Regions from separate parts of the Homo sapiens genome. Here region 1 is linked to region 2. Evidence: fine-mapped expression QTL. Tissue or cell type: whole blood. Region 2 holds a variant in brackets; the other region holds the start of a gene. All regions are shown on one strand. Distances are between the middles of the regions.

Evidence for each region. PIP is the estimated chance that this variant, and not a neighbour inherited with it, causes the effect.
Region 1: NSUN2 starts here. The variant in region 2 is fine-mapped to the expression of NSUN2 in whole blood (TOPMed, PIP above 0.99). The same link has a PIP of 0.9 or more in aorta, blood mononuclear cells, breast, cerebellar hemisphere, cerebellum and esophagus mucosa.

Annotation. Positions count from the first base shown.
Region 1 is chr5:6,623,773-6,636,075 of GRCh38, reverse strand. It overlaps NSUN2 (NOP2/Sun RNA methyltransferase 2), which reads left to right and starts at 3,032. Exons shown (of 19, transcript NM_017755.6): 1 at 3,032-3,192; 2 at 3,320-3,477; 3 at 4,099-4,203; 4 at 10,407-10,512. The coding sequence starts at 3,097. SRD5A1 (steroid 5 alpha-reductase 1) reads right to left here and starts at 2,636. Exons shown (of 5, transcript NM_001047.4): 1 at 2,207-2,636. The coding sequence starts at 2,499. RefSeq lists enhancers at 1,913-2,424, 2,425-2,936 and a silencer at 2,400-2,789.
Region 2 is chr5:6,598,091-6,610,277 of GRCh38, reverse strand. NSUN2 (NOP2/Sun RNA methyltransferase 2) reads left to right here. Exons shown (of 19, transcript NM_017755.6): 12 at 356-452; 13 at 2,894-3,078; 14 at 3,366-3,458; 15 at 4,870-5,005; 16 at 5,593-5,673; 17 at 6,002-6,140; 18 at 7,778-7,817; 19 at 10,046-11,039. The coding sequence ends at 10,352. Among named protein-coding and RNA genes, the nearest start is that of LINC01018, 22 kb to the right of the region's middle. The variant A/G (reference allele first, on the strand shown) is at 4,851.

The sequences.
Region 1 (12,303 bases), 26 kb before region 2:
TAGCAATTTAAAAAAAAAACTATACCTGACCCAGCCAATCCTCTTGGAGCAGCTTTTAAACTATTAGTATAGGAAGTGGGCTTTCATCCCAGCAGCTCCTTATCCAACAGCCTCAGGGAAGACAGCAGCATGCTGTGCCTCCGTGTTCTACTCTGTATGAATGAGCTGTTCAAGTTCTATCATTCAAGGTGACTCTGGCCCTTTGGGAGGCTGCATTCATTTTTCTGCTTGAGTGAATGTAGGTACAATGAAACATGATGTCTCAAGTTAAAAAGCTTCCACTTGGGATGTCAGGCAAAACTTTGTCAAGTGTTCCCTTGATTTCCAACACCACAGTTTTGCTGGCACATGAGGCTGGCAGCAGTGCACATGAATGACACACAGAGTACATGTCTGGATGTGCATTCACAGCAATGCAAAATAGTGCTAGGTATTGTGTACTGAGCACGCAGATGCGCCAGCACCATGCAAGCATTTTAGGGAGTTGCCTTTGCTCTAAATTCATGTGATCCCACAGGGGGGTTCCATCACCATGCCCATTCTACAGGTGGGGAAACCTTGCTGCGGGGCAGCTTAGTAACTCATCCAGGGTCATGACTGATGGGACTAGGATAGCACCGAATACTCTGACCTGAGATTGCTTTTAGCCATAAAGAAACAGACATACAGCTTCTGGTATATTTATGGAAAAGTATATACAAACAGCAAAGTCTGACTAATATTCAAATTGTAGCAATGGTTGATCCCATTCCAAAAAAAAAATAAAGCAATGGTAAAGAGTTTCAGGCACACAGTACTCACTAAGCCTCTGATGAATGTTGACTTGCCCTTGTTTAAAGTGCAAGTCATCAAAGCACACTGAGGACACAGACTGCACCAGTTACAGGGTAAGGTGCTGGTTTTCAGGGAACTCAGGTACCAAAAACTGTGCTGGGTACAACACTGGTTCCAAGTAGTGGAGCTGTGTACTTTCTCTTCGCTGGAATGCATGACACCAGGAGAAAGAAGAGAGGCTTATAAACACACACTGAGTTCTTCCTGTCTCTCTGGGAAGTGAGTGTTTTAAGGTGGGACCCCAAATCAGAAAGGTTGGGTAAACTGCCCATAGTCACACAGCCAGTGAGTTCAACTTCCTTGGGTGTAGAGACATCCTTTTTAACTGTGAAGCTTTCCAGAGCCTGAATGAAAACGTTTAAAATTTAATTTTGAACTTTCGACCTGTCGTTTGCTTTGGCTGTGTAAAAGCCAAAAGATACGACCTGGAGAGAACCCCAACTTATTAGAAGGCTTGAAGATTTCAGACACAGCCAGTTTTCAAATATTCAAAAAAACAAAAACCTTGAAAGATTTAGAAGTCATCTTTAAGACTTCGTTTGTTTAAGGTTTAAGGTTGCTGGCTTTCCACCCCCACAATCCTGGGGTCCCTTGCATAAGGTGGACATGAAAGTCTCTGAAAGTGATCAAGCCTATAAGGAGAAACTGCTAGGCAGTTTTAGGACAGCAGGTTTCCAGTTGCAGCTGATCACTTGGCTGGGAGAAAACAGCTCCACCATCACCAAAGATACCAAAAGGGGAACCGGCAGAAAGGAGTAGAAACCAGTGGCCCTCAAGACCGACCATCAGCATTAGACTCTAGGCCAACCCCCTCCCCCCCGCCCCCACAGTCGTGATCTAAGGGAACAAAATCTAGTCTTCATTTTTATTTTACATTTTTACTTTTTAACTCTTTATTTTTATATATTTAATTTTGAGACAGAGTCTCGCTCTGTCACCCAGGCTGGAGGGCAGTGGCGAGATCTCGGCTCACTGTAACCTCCGCCTCTCGGGTTCAAGCGATTCTTCCATCTCAGACTCCCGAGTAACTGGGATCACAGACAGGCGCCACCGCGCCCGGCTAAGGAAACCAAACCTAGGACCACTGAGTGGCTCTTTCCAGATCAGTTTCATCATGTTTTTTTCCATCACTCCCTTCCAGTCCTTTGTTTCCCGCCCTTTCCAGACGAATCCCTTCTGGTTTCCAAACTCCCGGGGCCGGGGGACTCGGGGAAGGGCACCCGTGCAGATGGGGGACGCCCCGGGGGATCTGGCAGGGAGAGGGCATCTGGGTGGGGGAGGCTTCGGGGAGAGGGCACCGGGCAGTGAGGGGAGGGTCGGAGAGGACGCCGGGCCGGGAGTAGGGTAGGGGGCCGGGGGCCGGGGACGTTACCGATGCCCGTAGTGGACGAGGAACATGGCCAGGAGGATGCAGTTGGGCGCGCTGCGGAGACGCGGGGCGGACTCGCTGGCGTACTGGTAGAGCGGCAGGGCCAGCGAGGGCAGCTCCTGCACCACCCAGGCGGCCCGCGCCGGCACTCGGAGCCTGTGGCTGGGCAGCGCGTGGCGGCCGTACACTGAGTTCGTCTGACGATTGCGCGCGAAGACCGCGCAGCCCACGGCGCACTGCAGGTAGGCGAGCGCGGCCAGCAGGCGCTCCTCCGCCACCCCCGTCGCCGTTGCCATCGCCAGGGCTGGGCAGCGTGCTCCATGCCCCAGAGGCCGCGGCGGGCAACATATAGGGCGGCGGCGCGGGGGCAGGAGGGGCGGCTACCGGAGGGGCGGCTACCGGAGTCCCGCACTGCCGGGACTCTGCAGAAAGGGTTCTCAAGTCAGGCTTCTCCGGGGTAGCCGGGGCTGTGGGTGCGGCCCCGGGGGCGGGGCGAGCACTTGCGCGGGGAGGGACCTGCAAGCGCCCCACCCACGCCGGGGCCGCAGTAACCCCGCGCCGCTCTGCGCACGCGCGGCTTCAGGCTGTCCGCGGAGCTCCTTGAGCCCGCGTGGGAAACCTGGGCGCTTCGCGCGGAGACGCCTTTGTGGCTGCTTCCTGGAGCATTTTTTTCCCCTTAGAGCTGTTCGCTGTTTTCCCTGTCACGCCGCTTTTCTGAAAGACGGGTTGTGCGCTTTGGGCTTATTCCTGGACGGTCCCCAAAGGTCCCCGAAAGGACCAGGCCCGGACACGTGGGGCCTTGGTTTCCGGCCGGAAGTCCCGGGAGGTGTAGGGCTAGAGTTCTGGCCGTGGCGGGCCGGTTTCTGCGTGCTGCGTGCGCGGCCGCGTGGGCTATGGGGCGGCGGTCGCGGGGTCGGCGGCTCCAGCAACAGCAGCGGCCGGAGGACGCGGAGGATGGCGCCGAGGGTGGTGGAAAGCGCGGCGAGGCGGTAGGAGCCGGGACCCGGCGGGCGGGCCAGGGGCTCCTCCTGGGCTTCCCGGACCCCGAGGCCTGCGAGGCGGCGGCGAGGGGGCGGCTCCTTGGGCCTCGGGGTAGACGTCTCTTTCCTTCCTCAGGGCTGGGAAGGAGGCTACCCCGAGATCGTCAAGGAGAACAAGCTGTTCGAGCACTACTACCAGGAGCTCAAGATCGTGCCCGAGGGCGAGTGGGGCCAGTTCATGGACGCTCTCAGGGAGCCGCTCCCGGCCACTTTAAGAATTACTGGTTACAAAAGGTAGGGAGGCAGTGCCTGATTTTTTGGGAGTTGGGGCCAGGATGCTGGAGGTTAAAGGCGACGGTGTTTTCTTCGACAAGTGTTACAGTGCCAGAGAACCGTGGCGTTTCAGCGGTTTGGATTCAGGAAGCATTGAGGTGGGGAGCACAGGGTCCAATGAAATGGTCACGGAGGTATTGCAGGCGCAAGGTTAGAAGACGAAATGAAAATGAGATCTGAGGAAGATTCGGCTCCTGGGGAATCTTCCAGGAGGGAAGCTGAGGGTCTTACCTTTTGGAACGTAAGAGAATTTATAGAGAATGCATAAAACCCCTTGGTTCTCCCCTCCTCCGCGCCCCCCCTCCATCTTTGTAGTTACATCTTTCTAAATGAGTCGCAAGTAAAACTTAACGGTAGGATATGCTTAGGAGAGAAGGAATGCAGTGTTGCTCTTAGGGCTCAAACAGTGTGGATTGCTTAAATTTTGAAGGCATACAGTGTAAAAGTAGTGACTAAAGAATGTTTACTCTCCATGCAAAAGTTGGTTTTAGTTTTAAAACACTTGCAGTCTTAAATTTAAGAAGATACAATGTATTAACTTAGTTTTTTAGATCAGTTTGAAACTTCCTTATTTTTCAATAGCCACGCAAAAGAGATTCTCCATTGCTTAAAGAACAAATATTTTAAGGAATTGGAGGACCTGGAGGTGGACGGTCAGAAAGTTGAAGTTCCACAGCCACTGAGTTGGTAGGTACCACAGTGCTTCATGCCGAATATTTATTTGGGATATTAATCTCTATCACTTGAATTATATTTCTTGGTACTGCATTTGCTGTTAAAGAGCTTGGGTATACTTTGCAAACATCCTAATGTTCTAGTACCTGGTGCTTTTATCAACATTATATTGCTACGCAAGTTTTCATGCGATTTGCGATTTGCAGCTTTATGAGTCACTGATTTCAGCCAGCTCTTCCTAGTACATCCAGCCTCTTCCTTTATGTCACCACTTCCGCCAGCTCCCTTTTACAGCCCTTGTTTTCTCACATCAAAACTGTTGCAGAGTGGCTGCTTTGCCTTCAGAAAAAGGACAGACTTAGCTTGACAACAGTCTCCTGGTAGGTAGTCTCTTAGTGTTTTCCATTACAGACAGGTTACCACTGTCTGCTGTCAGGTTGTCTCCTGGTACTTCGCAGTACAGACTGCACCAGCCAATGTAGCATTTCCGAGTCTCAGCACCCAAGCGTGCTACTACTCTGGGAGCTACCTCTTTCTTGACCTGTCCTGGAGGTGCCTTCTGGGTTACCTATTCCTCATGGCTCGGTTCTAGTCTCAGTTGTATGAAGGTGATCCCTTGTGCTGATAGCATCTTGTAAAGATGCTTGGAGAACTCCGGAGGCGCCAGTCCTTCAGTTAACTTACATAAGTGGGAAAGTCGTTATTATTAACTTTGAGGTATTGAGTTCTCAGAAAAGTAATGCACGAAAAGGTGAATTAAGCCGTTTTTTGTTTGTCTGTTTGTTTGTTTGGAGACGGAGTCTCACTCTGTCGCCCAGGCTGGAGAGCAGTGGCACCATCTTGGCTCACTGCAAGCTCCACCTCCCTGGTTCACGCCATTCTCTTGTCTCAGCCTCCCGAGTAGCTGGGACTACAGGTGCCCGCCACCACGCCCGGCCAATTTTTTTGTATTTTTAGTGGAGACGGGTTTTTACCTTGCTAGCCAGGATGGTCTCATCTCCTGACCTCATGATCCGCCCACCTCGGCCTCCCAAAGTGCTGGGATTACAGGCGTGAGCCACTGCGCCCTGCCAAATTAAGCGTTTTGCATCAACTTTTGAGGTTTTGACTATTCCAGTACGTAGTGTTATCTTTCCTTTTTGGATAACCTTTAGTGTTCGCAAATCAAGGTCAGATTTTCATTAATCATGGGGTACAGATTTGCTTGTTTTTCTTTCATTGGCTATTTGGATTTTCATTGTCCCTATCACAGATAAGCATATACATTCACAATGAATGCTGACTGGCCAAACATTAAGTCAGTATTCAACCAGTATCAAGACCGAATATCACCATCATGGAATGTGTTGCTGGGATATAGGAATAAATATGACCAACATCGTGAAACCCTATCTCTACTAAAAATACAAAAATTAGACAGGCATGGTGGCACACGCCTGTAATCCCAGACACTAGGGAGGCTGAGGCATGAGAATCGCTTGAACCCAGGAGGTGGAGGTTGCAGTAAGCCAAGATCATGCCACTGCACTCCAGCCTGGGCCACAGAGCGAGACCATGTCTCAAAAAGGGAAAAAAGAATAGATATGCCACATCTTAGATTTTTAAAAGCTTGAAGGGTACAGTATAGGAAAATGATACGGGTGCTACGTTGCTGTTAGTGGTCACTAATTGTCCACTGTAGTGAGATCAGTGGAAAAGGTAGATGTTTTTCAGCCTCTAGTTATGGCATTGCTGAGATGAGGTAACCTTCACGAGATCAAGCTTTTCTTCCTCCTGGTAACTAGGTTGTAGACTTTGCTCAAGTCGTTTGGTTTGAAGATTTGATTGACGACACTGATTGTGTTGTACTTGAAGTAGAGGTCTGATACTGTAGTAGTCCATTTTCACACTGTTATAAGGACATACCTGAGTAATGTATAGATAAAGGAAATAGGCTTAATTGACTCACATTTCCACATCGCCGGGGAGGCCTCAGGAAGCTTAAAATCATGGCGGAAGATCTCTCTGCACAGGGTGGCAGGAGAGAGAATGAGTGCTGAGCAAAGGAAGAAGCCCCTAATAAACCATCAGATCTCCCCCTGAGAACGAACTCACTGTTGTGAGAACAACATGAGGGAAACGGCCCGGGGATTTAATTATCTCCACCTCGTCCTGCCCTTGACACGTGGGGAATATTACAATTCAAGGTGAAATTGGGGTGGGAACACAGAGCCAAACCATCTAAAATATTTTAAGAAGACAGGATTACGATTCTCCTCGGGCATGTTTGTATTTTTAGCAGTGATGCATGTATGTGCTGCTTCACACAATCACCTGGAAACATTTGTTTCTAAAACCTTGTGTTTAGAAGCGCAGAGACGGGATAAGAAATGCTTTTAAGATGAAGAAGTTCCTGTCCAGGAGGAACGTTTCAGCATGTGTCTATAGGGAAGAGGTGTGCTCTTAAGGCACCTCCATGTGGGCATTTTCTTCTGCAGGCTCCAACAAACTAGGAGAAACCATACGATGTCAATAAGGCTTGCTAGTTTTTTATTATTCTCTGCAAACTACAGTTACACTTGGATTTGATCAGCCCTTTTAACATTTCATAGCTGCTTTTCCACCTTGTTTAACAATGTGTCTGGGTATATGACAAGGTAATTACCAAACTCTTAGAATCTGCAGGTTGTCTGTAGTTGAAGAATGAAGGTGAATTGCTCTCTGCCAACAGCCAGCTATGTTTTTGTTTGCTTTAATTTTCTGAACACACAGCTGAAGGGTATGAACAAAACATTGTAGATCTGGGTTTCTAATATTTGGCTTTTTCCATTATCAATGATGGTTTCTCTATATTTTATTTTGAGACAGGGTCTCACTCTGTCACCCAGGCTGGAGTGCAGTGATGTCATGACGGTTCACTGCAGCCTTGACCTCCTAGGCTCAAGTGATCCTCCCACCTCAGCCTCCTGAGTAGCTCGGACTACAGGTGCATGCCACCACGCCTGGCTAATTTTTTTTATTTTTTTGTAGAGATGGAGTTTCACCTTGTTGCCCAGGCTGGTCTTGCATTCCAGGGCTCAAGCAATCTTCCTGCCTTGGTTTCCCAAAGTGCTGGGATTACAGACATGAGCCACCATTCCTGGCCAATGCCAGTTTCTTGGCAGCTGTATTCTCTAAACATTTATTTATTCAAATTCATCTGTCAGTTTTAGGGTACTAAATCTCTCAGCAAGCAAGTAAAGCAGAAGCTTTCCAGGACTTCTGGTAATTTTCTGTATTGCTCAAGATGCAGGAATAGATCATGTAATATTCTTCCCAATCCTCTGGTACATAGTGAAATATAATTTAGGAAAACGTTTTTTGAAATTACATTTTCTAGAAGGAAAGTTATGTATAGGACCATAGCTTGGGCCAGTTTCATTTTTTTCTTACTTTCCATAGACTCAGAACAATGAGAAATTATCCTAAAGCATTCTTATAGAAGCATTGTTTTGACAACCAATTGTTCAGAGTGCACCTTATTATCATTCTATTTATGTGCTGTTTACTTATATTTTTTTTTGAGACAAGGTCTCTGTTGCCCAGGTTGGAGTGCAGTGGCATGATCTCAGCTCACTGCAACCTCCACCTCCTGGGCTCAGGTGATCCTCCCACCTCAGCGTCCCAGGTAGCTGGGATTACATGCCCCCATCACCATACCCAGCTATTTTTTCTATTTTTTGTACAGTTGGGGTTTTGCCATGTTGGACAGGCTAGTCTTGAACTCCTGACCTCAAGTGATCCGCCCACCTTGGTCTCCCAAAGTGCTGGTGTTACAGGCATGAGCCACTGCACCTCGCCTGTTACGTGCTTTTTAATGTCTAGATTGAGGATGGTTTGTCATAGATGTTGTATATATTTACAGAGTCCTTACCACTTGAGAATTTTTAATATGCAAAGATGACAGTGGTCCTTTTAACTTATCCTCTAAAAAGCCCAAATAGGATTTTTTCTTAAAAGACACAAGCTAAATTTGAAGTAAGTAACTAAAAATTAAATATACCTCTCATTTTGTTTGATGTTAAAATCTACAAAGATTTAATAAACATTTTTTGGTTCATAAAAAGATGATGCTGTTCCTAAAGCTGTATAAGAAACATAATTTAAAAACATTTCTTGTAGAAACAGGGCCTCGCTTTGTTGCCCAGGCTGTTCTCTGTACCCAGAGGAAATAAACATTTATCTGTTAGTTTCTGTTTGTATTTAAATATTTCAGAGTTCCTAAATGTTTCTTTACATGAGATCAACAGCCTTCACAATTATAAATACTGTAGAATTTTAATCTTGTAATAGTACGTTTACATTTTGACTATCAGAAATTTGACGAAAAAGACATATAAGGCTATATTTGTTCAAAGTATATCTAGACTGCTTATCTATATTTGAAAATGAAAATTCAGCTCTTTACAATAAGTCTAAATGGCATGTGGTGTTCATATTGATGTCTTAGTGATTTGGTAAGGCAATAACTTACATGATCGTACTAGCTTTGAGACAGACAAGTTCAGGAAGACCAGATACTATATGAGCTGGCATTTGGCTGTTTGCAAGTAGAGGTTACAGTGGCACAGCAGATATTTGCCCAATACTATAGCAAATGCCAAATTTGCATGTAACCTACTATTTCGCCTCTAATGAGTCCAAAAGATTATTTAAAACAATTCTTTTTAAAATTGCCTTATGAATATGATTTTCTTTTGGCTTTATATTTTTGAACACATTAAATGTCGAGGAGGGAACTGGGCTATATGAGATAGAATCAAAGCGCTGGGGACCTTTGGAGGGTGGCCGTGGACAGATTCAGCCAGTTTCGTCTTCATTATTTGGTAGAAAATGCTTTTCAGGTATATTTTGTAATATTTTGACTTGAGCAGTGTCGGGCTTTTAAGTCCTGAGTTTGTTTCCATCAAAAAATCAGAGTTTAAAAGCAGTCAAATGTGTTTGTGTTTTCCAGACATTCCAGTTTTATTTTCATGGTTTTCACTCTAGCTACAATTTGACGCATGGAAACATTGTGAGCCTGCATTGTTAAATTGAGTGTATTACTGCATCTCAGGTTTAGTGAGAATTGCTGAAACTACACTAAGATTTATGGCCGTGTGACGTGGTACACTTGGTTTGGCATTGGATTGAGCATGGTGCTGCATGACATCAGTGTGCTCATTTGTACGGTGCAGATGCCTGTATAGGTGCAGGCCAAGTTTCAAAGCACATCCTGGGTGGGGTACAGTGGCTCATGCCTGTAATCCCAACACTTTGGGAGACTGATGCGGCCGGATCACTCGAGGCCAGGAGTTCGAGACCAAGCTGGCCAACACGGCAAAACCACATCTCTACTGAAAATACACGTCTGTAATCCCAGCTACTCAGGTGGCTGACTGAGGCATGAGAATTACTTGAATCCAGGAGGCAGAAGTCACAGTGAGCTGAGATTACACCACTACACTCCAGCCTAGGTGACAGTGAGACTGTCTCAAAAAAAAAAAGGCAGTGTTTTTAGTATCCCCCATTTCTCCCCTAATTAAAAAAAATAAAAAAAATAAAAATAACATTGATGTCATCATTTATAGAAAGTTCAAATATATTCACAGATATGATGGCAGGAAATGCTTTATTCTTAGTTATATATAGGTAACAGCCTAGGAGCTCAAGTTAATGCATTAGTGGTTTCCAAGGTAGGATTTTTTTGGTATGTAAAATATTTTAGTGCATTATTGAACTGGTGTTAGAAATAATGAAAAATATATTTTTTAAAAAACTAATCAGGTATTTGTGGGACACTCTGACACTGCATTATTTTGATTCTGTGTGATCTGCACATTAAGTAAGTCATCTTGTATCTTTTTTTTCTGATGACCTTACCATTGTTACCTTATAATGGTGAAGAGCAGAGGAGTGTCCGCTTTTTCATCTGATCTCGAGCGTTTCATCATTATAATTTTACAGTAATATGCATAATCTTGTAACCCCCATGGCTCTCCTGTTTCTGATTGGGCCACGGTGTAGCTAGAGCCATGTTCCTTAAGCCTACAGCGACATCTCTGAGTGTTGCTGACTGTCCGTAGAGGATTGTGAATAGGAGCAGGGAGAACAACATTCGAAGTCTCATTTGGCATGCGACTGATAGAAGCACAAAGTTGTCAACAGACGACTTTAGTATTTATAATCCATAAATGTTTTGCTTTCTTTTTGGTCAGGTATCCTGAAGAACTTGCCTGGCACACAAATTTAAGTCGAAAAATCTTGAGAAAATCGCCACACTTGGAAAAGTTTCATCAGTTTCTAGTTAGTGAAACAGAATCTGTAAGTTGATTTCTTTAGACTTGCTAGTTTCCTTAAAGCTGTAAATGCATAGATGTAGTGTAGTTCTGTTTTTAGGTTCTTGTCACTAGAAGCAGTAGGTGGACATCACACACAGTAAAGACAACTGCAGTGTGTGCACCACCTGTGATTTCTGATTATTTGTATATCCGTTGCCTTGTTTGGTTTATCTAGTCATGAAATTTAGTAAGGATATCGATGCCAGCTAGTTAATTTCTTGTTTCCTCTTGCTTGTGTATTTGGATGGCTATAGGGTTGGGGTGAGCACTGCACTCTCATTTCCTTCTTAGGTACACATTTCAGATGCCTGTTGTACATAAAAAGTAGTATGTTTTTAAGGCCATCTTGGTAGGGAATAGGTTTTTGGTTCTGTTTTTTAAAATTGATTTATTTTACTAAAAATGAAGCTTTTGATTTTACTTTTTACTGTGTTTTTTTTTTTTCTTACCACACATTGCTCTTGGTAACCACAAAACACCTAAGCACCACAAAACCCCTAAGCACAGCTTTGGTCCTCACAGGACGGCATCTGTCTTCACATTCTCCGTAGCCACCCACATTCCTTGAGTGCAGTTAAGGTGCTGAGCTTTTTACCTTTAGCATCAGAGCATCCCCAGCAAAACAGCTATTTGCTTATGTACTAAATAATTCAATGAATGCCCATAAAGTTTGGGTATTTTTTTTGGAATTCTTAGTCTCACATTTAAAATCAGAGGTTTCGTCCTTCCTATTTTCTAAACTACTACCTTCTAGTAAATCTGTGTGTCACCAGATTATGGTTCTTTTTCACTTTGGCCTTCTGTCATCTAAGTAACCGACTAAACTGGGCTTGTGTCTGCCTGGCTTTTCCTTCCTGAATAGTAACAAGAACCAGGAACTAAGTGCTGCCACATAACCCCATTTCGTACTTGAGACCAGTGCACGAAAGGATTCTCTTGCTCAACTTTCAATCTAGATGGAAGGCCAAATAGAGATCAGTAAGCTGCTAGAGAACAGCTCAGGTTTGCACTTGGAAGAGAGCGTGGGGTTTGTGGGGTGTGATACACATGGATAGGTTGGAAGAGCCAGGTTTTGGCATGTTTGGAAGATGGAGGAGATGGGAGTTTAGGGTGGGTAGCAAATGTTGTAGGGAACTAGTATAGGTTTTTGATTAGGAGTCAGCGTGATGAGAGCTCTTGAGATGAATGGCAATAACCTCTGGGTTATGGAAAGCTGGCCACAAAACATCTACACAGGGTGGTCATGAATCTGGTTACTGTCTGCCGGGATGTCCCCATCTTACTTAATGCTTTAATCAAAACCTTGGATGGATACAGAAGGCAGGCATATCAGGATCACACGTATAACTCAAAAGCTTGGAATCAGTGTGCCTAGTGAGTGAATCACCACAGACTCATGCTGGCCAGAAACCCATGAGGTGAAAATTAGCAGCCATCAGTGTAAAAGCCTGTATTTAAGGCTCTTGACAGTCACATGCCTGAGTTTAAGGTGAGTGATGGATGCCTGGGTGGCTGTTCATTTCCAGAAGTCCCAGCTTTTGTAGGGTTGTGTTGGAGCAGAAGCCTCAGCTTCAAGGCGATTAAAGTAGAGGTGTGGTTGAGGCTAGTGCTGGGCAGGGCAGGAGGATTTTGTCTGCACCTGAATAGTTCTGCCTTGTAACAGATGTCCTGGCCGACTAGAGAAGACAGAGGGCAGGGAGTGTGGTGAGGAATTTTAGATATTGAAGGTCTAAAGATGGAAAGATGGAAGCAGTGGTTGATGTCTTCATCTCTT
Region 2 (12,187 bases):
TGGCAAGACCCCATCTCTACAGAAAAAAAAAAAGAAAAATACAAAAACTGGCCAGGCAGTGTGTTGCATGCCTGTAGTCCCAGCTCCTTGGGAGGCTGAGGCAGGAGGATCTCCTGAGCCCAGGAGGCGGAGGCTACAGTGGGTTGAGATCACACCACTGCACTCCAGCCTAGGCAACAGATCCAGACCTTGACTCAAAAAAAAAAAAAAAATTTAAGTTTACATATTGGCCATTCTATGAGTGAGGGTCGAAGACATGATTTTTCTCTTGTATCATCTTTGCGGTATTTGTCTTAATAGTAAAAGAATGCATTTTTGATTAGTTCAGAGGTGTGAATTATATATATATATTTAGCCTTAGGATATTACCCCATCATCAGAATACTGGAGGGTTTTTTGTGGCAGTATTGGTGAAAAAATCTTCAATGCCGTGGAATAAACGTCAGCCAAAGGTGAGTTTTTCTTTTTCCAAAATGACATAACATTTGATCTTGTACATTTAAGACAAAAACTAACCGGAGTTTAGTAGAAGTACAGAGGAAAGAGGAGCTTCTTGCTGTGGGCAGCAGGAGAGCTGACCCTGAATGAGGGGGAATTTCATTTAAATATCAAGTTTTCCAAAAAGCAGAAATTTCTCATAGGTGATAGGTAAGTGGAGAAGTCAGTGTTTGGGGGAATGTATTCCTGCCACACTGTAAATCCAGTTATTTAATAAAAATTGAAAAGACATGAAAGATTGCTCTGTGGCTCTCAATTGGAAGCCCCAGGTTTCTGTGCTCTAGTTCCTTGTGAGTGGTTCATTTCACCAATTACAGATAGCAGAGCTCTGCTGACCCCAAGCCAGCCCGGGTTCACCTTGGCTGCAAGGAATGATGACGGCCTTGTCCAGACCTGGCTAGAAAGATGCAGCCCGGCCTGTTTGCTATGGATCTAAACTGCCTGCTGGTTCCTTTCCAAGGCAGGCCAGGAAACAGTGGTGAAGGAGTGTTGCCCTCATCCTAACACGCAGTCCTTTGTAATGCGTGCTGTCTCACCTGTATCACGCCAGCATTATTTATTAGTTCATAAATCAGCCTTCCATGATGAAAGAACCTGGCCTGGAATCAAAGTCTGGAAGTCTGTATTTCTTTAAGATCCATGCTTGAAAATTAGGACAAAAAACGCTTAGCTTTGGAGGAACAAAAAGGAAACAGTTCCGCAAAGAGCTCCAGCCTTTTTCTGGGGCACGGTTTGTGCAGTTTAACGTTGGAACGTACAGCCTCAGACGGGCAAAGGGGGCGACTGCACTTCTGCCGCCACCAGGGTTTTTCTGTCAGGTTAGAAAGTATTTCACTTTGAGGCTAAAAGTCTCACAAGGTATCTTAACGCTGATGGAATGTTATTTTCATGGAATCAGTATAAGAAATTATATTGTAAAGTATTAGATACTTTGCATTCATTCATACTAGGTTTCAGTAGCTTGTGTTTTAGACTTTGCGCTTGTCACATTTTAAGTGGTCAGTGACCACAGGCTTGTGGCTGCCCAGCTGCAGAGCACAGTGCAGTCACAGAGGAGCCTGTCTTAGAGACGCGTGCTTTAGGTTGGCCTGCATTAGGGCTTACATTGATGTTTCTGACGTGTTAATACTTACATAGAAAGGTTTTGACATTTTTTCAATTAGCCCCTTATGTATAGTCTTACTTTTTAGAACAACTTATTGTCATTTTCTCGTTTAAATAATATGAATACTTCTCTCTTTCTGTTACTATGTCAGTTTCTTATTCACTTAGTTCAACAGATCTAGTGCTAGCATGGCCTGTGCTGCTGTTGGTCCTACTGGGAACGCAGGTAGAGTCTCCATGGTCAGGATGCCGTGTTCTGTTGTGGTGCTGAGGCCTGTAAGCACTTGGCTAGAAGTTAGGCCAGGGAAGCTCACACTGACCTTGGTATTTGAAGGTCCCAGAATGAGGTTGTTGAGGTAGAACAGAGATGGGAGAACATGCCCTTGGAGCTGGACTCAACAAGAAGGCCCCTCTGGGGGAAGCTGAGGTTGGACAGGAAGGGCGTGTGCCCTCACTGACTTGCTCACAGGCTTGGGGTTCATCTGTTTTGGTTTTTGCTTTTTTACATTATATTAACATGGAAATAAAAGGTGTTCCCTGGGATGCTCCCGGCTTCTCTGCTCAGTAGCTTTGTGGCTCTGAGTAAAATGAACTTGCCTGTGTTGAAATATCCTAATTTTTAAACTTACTTCATAGGGACTGAGGAATTACGACTTTTATCAATTTTGTGACCTGTTAAAATGTTAAAAAGGACATGTATTTTTTAAAGATCTTTAAGTAAAACATTTTGCTCATTCCCAAAGCCAAATTTAAATTATACCATGGCCCTAATTCAGAAGTTCATTCTTTGGCAGGTGTTTCCTTGGTGCCTGGGGCACTCTCTCTTTCTCCCAGTTCCTGTGGCAGTTTGTCCAGGTGCCCAAGAACAATTCATACCCTCCTTTCTCGTTATTTATATACTTGTCTTTTTGCCCCTGCCGGGTATTTTAGAAATCGTGCTTGGTGCACTTTGTGTCCTTCAGTGTGCCTTACCCAGAGCAGATGCACGATAAGCATTTTTACACGAGAACAAGCTGGTGGTGTAGGCCTCTGCTAAGGAACAGGCTGTATATGCTCTTTGTGGGATTAAGGTAGAATCAGCTTTAACTCCAAAGAAACTGTCCATGAATTTTGTTTATAATAGCAAGTAGATTTAAAATGACACTTTAAAAAAATTCTGTTGTCTTTCTCTACATATAATGCTGTAGAAAAATATAACTGATGGATTTTGTGAACGTGGTATTTTTAACTTTTCGTAGCAGCACAAAGAATGCTCCTCTTTGTGTGTCAATGAAATTGTTCTTTATGACAGCTTCAGGGTAAATCTGCAGAGACCAGAGAAAGCACACAGCTGAGCCCTGCAGATCTCACAGAAGGGAAACCCACAGATCCCTCTAAGCTGGAAAGTCCGTCATTCACAGGAACTGGTGACACAGAAATAGCTCATGCAACTGAGGATTTAGAGAATAATGGCAGTAAGAAAGATGGCGTGTGTGGGTAAGAAAAGTGGTTATGTCTTGATCTAATACGCTGGTGTCTTCACAGTCCTTTTGGATTAAATGGGATCCCAGAGCCACTTCTTGGTCGGTTTGAGGGGGCAGTACATGTGTGGTATCAGGCACATGCAGTGTGAGGGCTGGACTCTGTGGAAGCCGGAAGGTTTCAACATCTGCCGCAAACCGTTCCATGTTGCACAGAACTGACAGAAAGGAAGAATGTGCTTTTGGTATTGAAGGTTACCACACATTACAGATTGATTTGTCTCATCCTGATTCCCTTTTTAGTCCTCCTCCATCAAAGAAAATGAAGTTATTTGGATTTAAAGAAGATCCATTTGTATTTATTCCTGAAGATGACCCATTATTTCCACCTATTGAGTAAGGATTCAGCCTTTTTAATTATTCATTTAAAGAAATTTACTATAGAGTATCAAATGTACAACTGATCACATGTAACCATTGTTTTGTATGTAGTTCTGTCTAGCTTTTTTTTTTTTTTTAACCTTTTTAACTGCATATTAGAGCAGGATGAAACTTTAGAGGTTACTCAATCTTTTAATTTAAGGAGAAAGTAAACTTTTACTTTGTGAACATGATAGATAAAAAAAAACTGGACCGGGCGCGGTGGCTCACGGCTGTAATCCCAGCACTTTGGGAGGCCGAGACGGGCGGAGCACGAGGTCAGGAGATTGAGACCATCCTGGCTGACACGGTGAAACCCCGTCTCTACTAAAAATACAAAAAAAATTAGCCGGGCGTGGTGGCGGGCACCTGTAGTCCCAGCTACTCTGGAGGCTGAGGCAGGAGAATGGCGTGAACCTGGGAGGTGGAGCTTGCAGTGAGCCGAGATCGCGCCGCTGCACTCCAGCCTGGGCGACAGAGCGAGACTCCGTCTCAAAAAAAACAAAAGAAAACTGGACTGTGATTATGAATCTAAATTAGTTGTGATCCTGAACCTAAATTACTCAATTGAGTATATAGACGAGTAGCCAAGGTTGTCTAGTTCAGTTTCTGTAGAAGAAATGAAGAGCAGCATGGGTGAGGGCTAATTAGGGATGACATAGACAGAATATAGAGGAAAAGGGTTTAGGACAAGTCTGACATTCATCTGTTTCTTATTCATTGAATTTTAGAATCTATTTACCAGGGCGGTCACTTACTGTCTTTTTTAATAACTGGTCCTTTGCATACATTTGTAAAAGTCTATTAAAAAATAAGTCTCAGCCGGGCACATCCCAGCACTTGGGGAGGCTGAGGCAGGCAGATCATGAGGTTAGGAGTTTGAGACCAGTCTGACCAATGTGGTGAAACCCCGTCTTTACTAAAAATACAAAAAAAAATTAGGTGTGGTGGCGTGCACCTATAATCACAGCTACTCAGGCTGAGGCAGGAGAACCGCTTCAACCCGGGAGGCAGAGGTTGCAGTGAGCTGAGACTGCGCCACTGCACTCCAGCTTGGAAGACAGAGCAAGACTCCATATCAAAAAAAAAAAAAAAGTCTCAAAAGTAGTGTTATCAGGTCATTATCATTGGAGTAGCGGCTGAGGGAGAGAAGCTGCACTTGTTAATTTAGGTTTCTGATGGAGTTGTGCCCCAAATAAATGTTACGTGGAGGTTTCAGGTGGAAGTGGATGAAGTTTAGAAGCTGGAGTCCAGAGCAGAGCCCAGTGCCCTTGAACCACACTGCAGTTTTGGGGATTGAATTCTGGAGGAGGAGAATAAGATGTTTAGAAACAGTCTACCAGATTTTGAACTCATTGTGGATAAACA[A/G]CAATGTTGTTATGTACAGGAAATTTTATGCTTTGGATCCTTCATTCCCAAGGATGAATTTGTTAACTCGGACTACAGAAGGGAAGAAAAGGCAGCTCTACATGGTTTCTAAGGAGTTGCGGAATGTGCTGCTGAATAACAGTGAGAAGATGAAGGTGCCAGCCGCACAGACGCTGAGTGCTGTGTGATGCGGGATGCGTGTGGCTTTTCACAGCGGCTTAGATTTCATTTGGAGCAGACCGTGACATCTGCCCTCCCCACCTGTAGCGCTGGCTGTGGGTCCCTGAGCCTGCCCTTTGATTTCAGAGCTGTTGACTGACACAGGGCTGAATGGTTCCTGCCAGAGTCCTGAATCTGGTGGCCTGTGTCTTTTCTGTGCCCCATTCCCGCAGGGGGGTGAGCCATGGTGTAGTTCTCACAGCTCGCCCTCCTGGGCAGAGAAGGTACTAAAGGTGTAGAGGCTGCGAGTACTGCTGCCCCGACCCTTGGGATTTGTCCTTTGAGGTACTTCCCTTAGAATTTGGCCATTTGGGGGCCCTTCTTTCATTTGCTTTACTGTCCTCCAAACGACGTAATCACAAGTTGTGAGTATCAGTTCGTTCTTAACCGGGGTTTCTCGGTGGGTTTCTGCTTCTCCTCTCCTTTCCCATTCCGTGACGGTTGCTCCATGTGGCCCGGCATCCTTACAGGAGATGGTCCTGTCTTCATCTCTCTGTGTTTCATCTTATTTTTTTACTTACAGGTTATTAACACGGGGATCAAAGTCTGGTGTAGAAATAACAGCGGTGAAGAGTTTGACTGTGCTTTCCGGCTGGCACAGGAGGTAATTTTGGAAGTGGATTTGAACAGCAGTAGCCACAGATGACTGAAGCAGTCGGGAGTAGATGGGCTTGCTGGTCAGCCAGATGGTCTGAGTGGCTCAGGGCTTGGCTGGCACCTACCAGCCACTTGACCCTCACAGGTTATAGAGCTCTCCCAGAGTGCTGGTTTCCCCTCCTAGGGGGGGGTGGGTTCCACACCTGTCCAAGGGGAGGGGCCATAGTGAGGGCTCGACCACCATAGCCGCTAAGAGCATAGCCCCTGAGAGCAGGCTGTTGTCGTTCATGAATGACATCATGGTATCTGTTCTCTCATTCTCTTTATTCACACAGGGAATATATACATTGTATCCATTTATTAACTCAAGAATTATTACTGTATCAATGGAAGATGTTAAGATACTGTTGACCCAGGAAAATCCCTTTTTTAGAAAACTCAGCAGTGAGACCTACAGTCAAGCAAAGGACCTGGGTGAGTAGTTGGAAATGCATAGAGACATAACTTGTATTCCCTTTATAAGGCCAGCAAAAATGCAGGTGGTGTGCGTTGGGGCATATTTATCAATCATAGTTTTCAGTTTATTTATGGCTACATCAATTTCCAGAGGGTTCTGTAGATCCCTGATTGACAGTTCAGAATGCTAAGGGTCAAAGGCATCTTGGGGTTGGTGTACTTCCCCAGGCTCTGGTGGTGCCCTGCTGCTGCCCAGCAGCCTGTGGTGTGTCTGTGTGGCGTGCAGGGCTGGCCTTTGCTCACCTTGCTGGGCCAGAGAGTCCGGGGAGAGGAGGGGTCAGCCTGTGAGCAGCCCTGGCAAGCCTCCCAGCCAGAGCTCTTGACCCACTTGCCTGTCAGCAGGTCGGGGGTGGGTGGAAGCAGGTCTCTGTGCATGAGCAAATTTGTTTTTTTCTTTTTTTGTTTTGAGACAGAGTCTCGCTCTGTCACCCAGGCTGGAGTACAGTGGCACGATCTCGGCTCACTGCAAGCTCCGCCTCCCAGGTTCAGCCATTCTCCTGCCCCAGCCTCCCAAGTAGCTGGGACTACAAGCACCCGCCACCACGCCCAGCTAATTTTTTGTATTTTTAGTAGAGACGGGGTTTCACCGTGTTAGCCAGGATGGTCTCAATCTCCTGACCTTGTGATCTGCCTGTCTCAGCCTCCCAAAGTGCTGGGATTACAGGCGTGGGCCACCGCGCCCAGCCAGTAAATTTGTTTTTTAAGGTACACAGCCTCACGAGACTGGCTAACATGCAGATTTTAATCACCTGTGTTAGAGCAAAATAAGAGTCTTGCCAGCAGTTCTGACTTTTCTGCTAGCCAGCTGGAGTAGATTATTGGTCATATTGCTGCTTTTATATTTCATCAACTTCCACTTCAGATCACTCCAGTGACGTTTTCCCCTAAGCATAAAAATCATTTCTCCAAGCTGTTCTAATTTTCTTTCTGTTGTCTTCATTCTTGTTTATTTTTTTAAATAACTTGCTGTTTAATATTTTTGGCTCAATTTGATCAAAAGTACGTGAATCACTTCTTGCAGTTACGTTTCTTACTTGCGTTTAAAACTTACTCGTGTGGTTCCTTTGGGATATAAAACATGCTCTGTGGAGTCTGTCTCCCACTGCCGTCTCCAGGCAAGAACCACAATTTAAAGTAGAGATTCTTGTAAAGGATAAAGGACCTGTTTATACTGGTTTTCTTTTAATCCTGCACTTAGATGATTGCAGTATTGTTTTAGACAATTTTTATGTATTTCATGCCATTCTGGGAGTTGGTGTTATAGTTTATTTAATTTTGAATTTTGAAGAATTAACCAGCAGTTAATCCCCAGCCTCCTTGCTTCTCAGAGTGGATTGTCAGGTGACATCCCTTGAAGTCCCTGAATGGCTTTTGCCTGGGTCCTCTTCCAGATCGTCCCTACTGCGTCATTTGGACTTGGTTCATGTATCCAGACGGCCTCTTTTCACCATCTAGATCCTTGAAGCCAAGAATGTAGATTATTTGTTGTTTTCTTTCTTCAGAATACTTAACACATCACTAGGTGCAGAAATGTGCTCAGCGCATGCATCCACTACCTGGAAAACCTGGCAAATGTGTGTCTGTTTCTTTTCCAGCAAAGGGAAGCATCGTGCTGAAGTATGAACCAGATTCTGCGTAAGTCAGTACACGCCCTGCCCTTAGACACACACGCCTTGTCATTAGCTACAGTGTTCTCGTTGGTGAGGAAAGTGACTTGGGAAGGTGGGAACCTTCTTCAGGCCTTTTGTGATTGTTCCTCAGAAGTAGCCTTGTGAAAACTTCAGAACCAAAATATTCCTGTAGGTCATCATGAAGATGCTGTTTCATAGAACACTCAGCTCAGGCTAAGTGAATTTTTACTTACAGAGAATAAAATGCATAGTACTTATTTTTTAAGCATTAGAAACCAATGAAAATTTCTGTCTTGTACAGAGTAAGTGTGAAGATTGGACAGTTGAGTGAGGTTCCGTTCTTTTGTCCTCATGGCTGGTTCAGCCATGTGTGTTGCTGACATGTTACTGCATCAGGAGTGCTAGGGCCGGAGCATGGGATTTGCTCACGCTTGCACTCACGGTCCCCACGGGACCACTGCTCCACGCTGCTTGCATGTATTCACGCTGCATCCTTGTGGGGGGCCTTGGGGGAGCAGGTGCTGGTTTTGGCAGCACTTGCCAGAGGAGGAAGCCGGGACAGAAAGTTAGGTGGCTTGCCCAGAGCTCCTCAGCTCACGAGTGGCAGAATTCGGATCTCACCTGCAACAGCTCCGTCTTGGTGACATGCAACACCATTTCTGAGAGGAGGAAACAGAATGGGGTCCACGGCTGACTGGGATTTGGGGGAGTGAATAGGTAGAACCACTGTACAGATTTCTTTGGGAAGTTAGTGTTGGACCAGGGATCCAGTGCTAACTTGAAGGAACCACCAAAGCGCAGATCCTGAGGCAGGTGCAAGCTGGGGGTCGGGGCGGGCCCAGCCAAGTAGGGAAGGAGGAGGGATAGGTAAGAGGTTGGCAGGGAGGCCGAGGGGCCACATGTCCTCAGGGTTCAGGCTGTCCGGCTGCCATGTGGAGAGAGGACAGGTGGGGGCTGAGGTGGGAGGGGCAGGAACTTGGTGAGGGAACAACAGATGGATGGGCTGGAGAGGTCAGCGAGGCCGAGCGCATGAGCACCCTGGGGACCTGCTGGAGGCGGATGGTGTCTGGATGGTGAACGGGCAGGAGCATCTAGTGATTGATGGCTTCTGGGTGTTTTTAACGAGAGTTTGAACAAAGACTCAGAAATGGTTTTTAAAATAACAGTCCCATGTGGCCCACATAGAAAATATTGGGATATTTTAAGGTGTGGATTCACTTTTCCATATTTAAACACTTGTTTCTACTTGGTGAAATACACAGGTGACAGGTCAACTTCAGGAATAATGGTTTTTTTTTTTTAAGAAGATGGGAGTTGGGAATTTCTTATATTTTCCTCTCACTTCTTAAAACCACCTTTGTGCCCCTGCTTTACATTAGGAAAAATGGAAAGGTGATTAAACACGGCCGTTAGGAGCCTAAAATCTAGGTCAGAGTCCCGTATGAAAGAAATCAGATAAGTTGAGAGAGGGCGTGTGCAGGTTGGAAATGGTGGCGTCCATCTCTGCTGGGGCGTCGATGCCTCCTGGCTGGACAGGTGGAGCCTGGAAGGTAGGGAGGCTCGGAGCATGTTCAGAGAGGCAGGGATGTTTTTGACTGTGGGTAACACTGCATGCTGGGAACGGAAATGAGCACTGTGTGCCCAGCAGGGCTCAGACTGCCATGTGGGGTCCCTGGAGAAGAAATCACGCTAACACTGAGTATCAAAAGGATGAGTGGTCCTGGGTTCTGCTCTGGCAGCCCTGCTAAGGGCAGAGTCTCCCGGTGGTCCTGGGTCCTGCTCTGACGCCCTGCTAAGGGCAGAGTCTCCCAGCCTCTCAGGAGCTTCAGTCCACTTAGGAAACTTGAGGTGAGCTGCAGGGAGCCTGTGGAGAAACGCTTCTCATTTAGTGGGGTGAGGTGACACGGGGTGGCGGGGACAGTAAGTTAAGTTTGAGAAGGAAGTATGTAGAAAGTGTATGTGAAATCTGTAGATTTGGGGCCTCTACTCCATTGTGAACTTAAAGAGGCAGGGCGAAAGCGAGGGTGAGAATTTTACTCAGGACATGAAGAAGGAAGTCCTTTGAGAAAACCTACCCCTCGGATCCAGATGAAATGTCCTCCCAGTAGTTTTGGGGGTTTTGTGGGTATGGGTTTTCTGTGGTTTTCTTTTTTAAGCAGTTGCATATTACATCTCATTCGATTTAGTTATGGGAATGTTTAATGTTCTACATGAAGCCACTTTCACTTGTAGGAATCCAGACGCTCTGCAGTGTCCCATCGTCTTATGCGGATGGCGGGGAAAGGCCTCCATTCGAACTTTTGTGCCCAAGAATGAACGGCTTCATTATCTCAGGATGATGGGGCTGGAGGTATTGGGAGAAAAGAAGAAGGAAGGGGTTATCCTCACAAATGAGAGTGCAGCCAGCACCGGACAGCCAGACAATGACGTGACTGAGGGACAGAGAGCAGGAGAGCCCAACAGCCCAGATGCAGAAGAGGCCAACAGTCCAGACGTGACAGCAGGCTGTGACCCGGCGGGGGTCCATCCACCCCGGTGAGCAGGCCCAAGGCAGCGGGGGCCCACACCCCTCACACGCAAAACTGGCTTCTTCTGGTCACTGGTGTCTGAAACCAAATCCAGAGCAGCCTGTGGCCTGTAAAGCATATATTTCTAATGACTGCAGACTGGTGGGATCATAGGAGCCTTCTGAATGACCAGGACTGCTTTCTTTGGAGCTGATGAAAATGTACTCTTTTAGCGTGTTAGAAATCACTTGTTTTATTTTGTTTCTTTGGCCAAGCTGGGTCTAGTGTTTCTTTTGCTGGGAATAGACTTTCAAAAGTTGTACTTCTATCAAGAAACAAAACTGCCCTTGCAGAAATTTCAGGTCTTTTGTTAAGCCTGTATTGGTCTTAAGGTGCAGTATTTTTTAAATTATTATTTATAGAAAGAATCTATAAATTCTTGGGGAAGTGTGTTATAAGCTTTAATAATTACATTGAGCTGCACCTCAGTGGTGTGTCATTAACATGCAGTGGGGTTAATATCTGAGGCCTCAGATGACTTTGTGCCTTTTGGAATAAAGGGTAAAATAAACTCTCCCAGAGTAAGAGCTGTATCGTGAATTGTCATACTAATTATTGAGGGGGACTTATGTGCTTTTATTGAATGGAGTGCTTTACAATTTTTATTTTTAAATGGGGTTGGGATCCTTGGAATATTTCAATAAAATTGATAAAATATATACATGTGTGATTCCTGTTTTTGCTCTTAGGAAGCAGAAAGAACAAACTTACTTTTGGCTAAATGGCAGTGTTAGAATACATCCTTATTTTCTCTAGTGAAAGCGGTTTTACTGTGAAGGCTGCTGTCTTCCTGTCTACCTCATTTTGTGTGTTGGTCTGTACAAACACCGACCACACACTGCCTTTGGTGGATTTGTCTCTGGAGTCTCCACTGTGGAATACTTTCAAGCTCTGTGGCGTGAAGAGCTCCTATTTCTCTTTCGCCCACATTCTCCACTGAACATTTCTCTACATTTGCATTTGCATCCTCTGGTGTGCTTGCATGTCACTCATTGTTTTCTGAACCCTTTGACAGTAAGTTACAGACGTGTTCCGTTACCCCCTTGCTCCTGTGGTGTTTCCTGGAAACAGAGGCCCTCTTTACAGCTCGCAGCATAGGCGTCAGAAACGTGGATGCAGGTCACCCTCAAACCAGCAAGCTCGCTCCAGCGGCCCAGTAATGTCCTTTGCAGTCACAATGTCCAATTTTGTCTGGGGTGACACCAGTTGCCTTTGGCTGTCTTGTCTCGAGTTCACTACCGTCAGAAACAGTTCCCAGTCTGTCTTTTATGATTGAGACAGTCTTGCAGGGTACCGGTCAGGTAGTCTGAATGTGCTTCAGTTTTGGTTGGTCTGAAGTGTCCCTGTGATGTGTGCGTTTTTGACAGGAGGACCACAGAGGTGGTGCTGTGTTCTCGCTGCGTCATGCCAGGAGGCTGACGATGTTGGGTTTTCTCTTTATAGTGGTGGTGAAGTTTGTTTTATTATTAGTAACATGGTATCTGTCTGCCAAGTTTCTCCACTGAAAAATTTGTAAGTATTGTGCAAGGAGACATTTCAAGACTATATTCCTCTCTCTCATCAAACTTTTAACTGCCAGCTTTAGTATTTCTTGATAATTTGCCTGAGCCAGTTTTTACTGTGACAGCTACAAATTGTTTTCCCCCATTTTTCATCACTTCTACATTATTAGTTCTCATTACATAGAATAAGCACTCCTCTGTCCTTTGTTTGCTTCTTGATTCATTTTCTGTCAGTACGGATTCAAGGATTCTGTTTTATTCAGTTATTTATTTATTATTACTGTCATTTATTTTGGTTCTCAGAT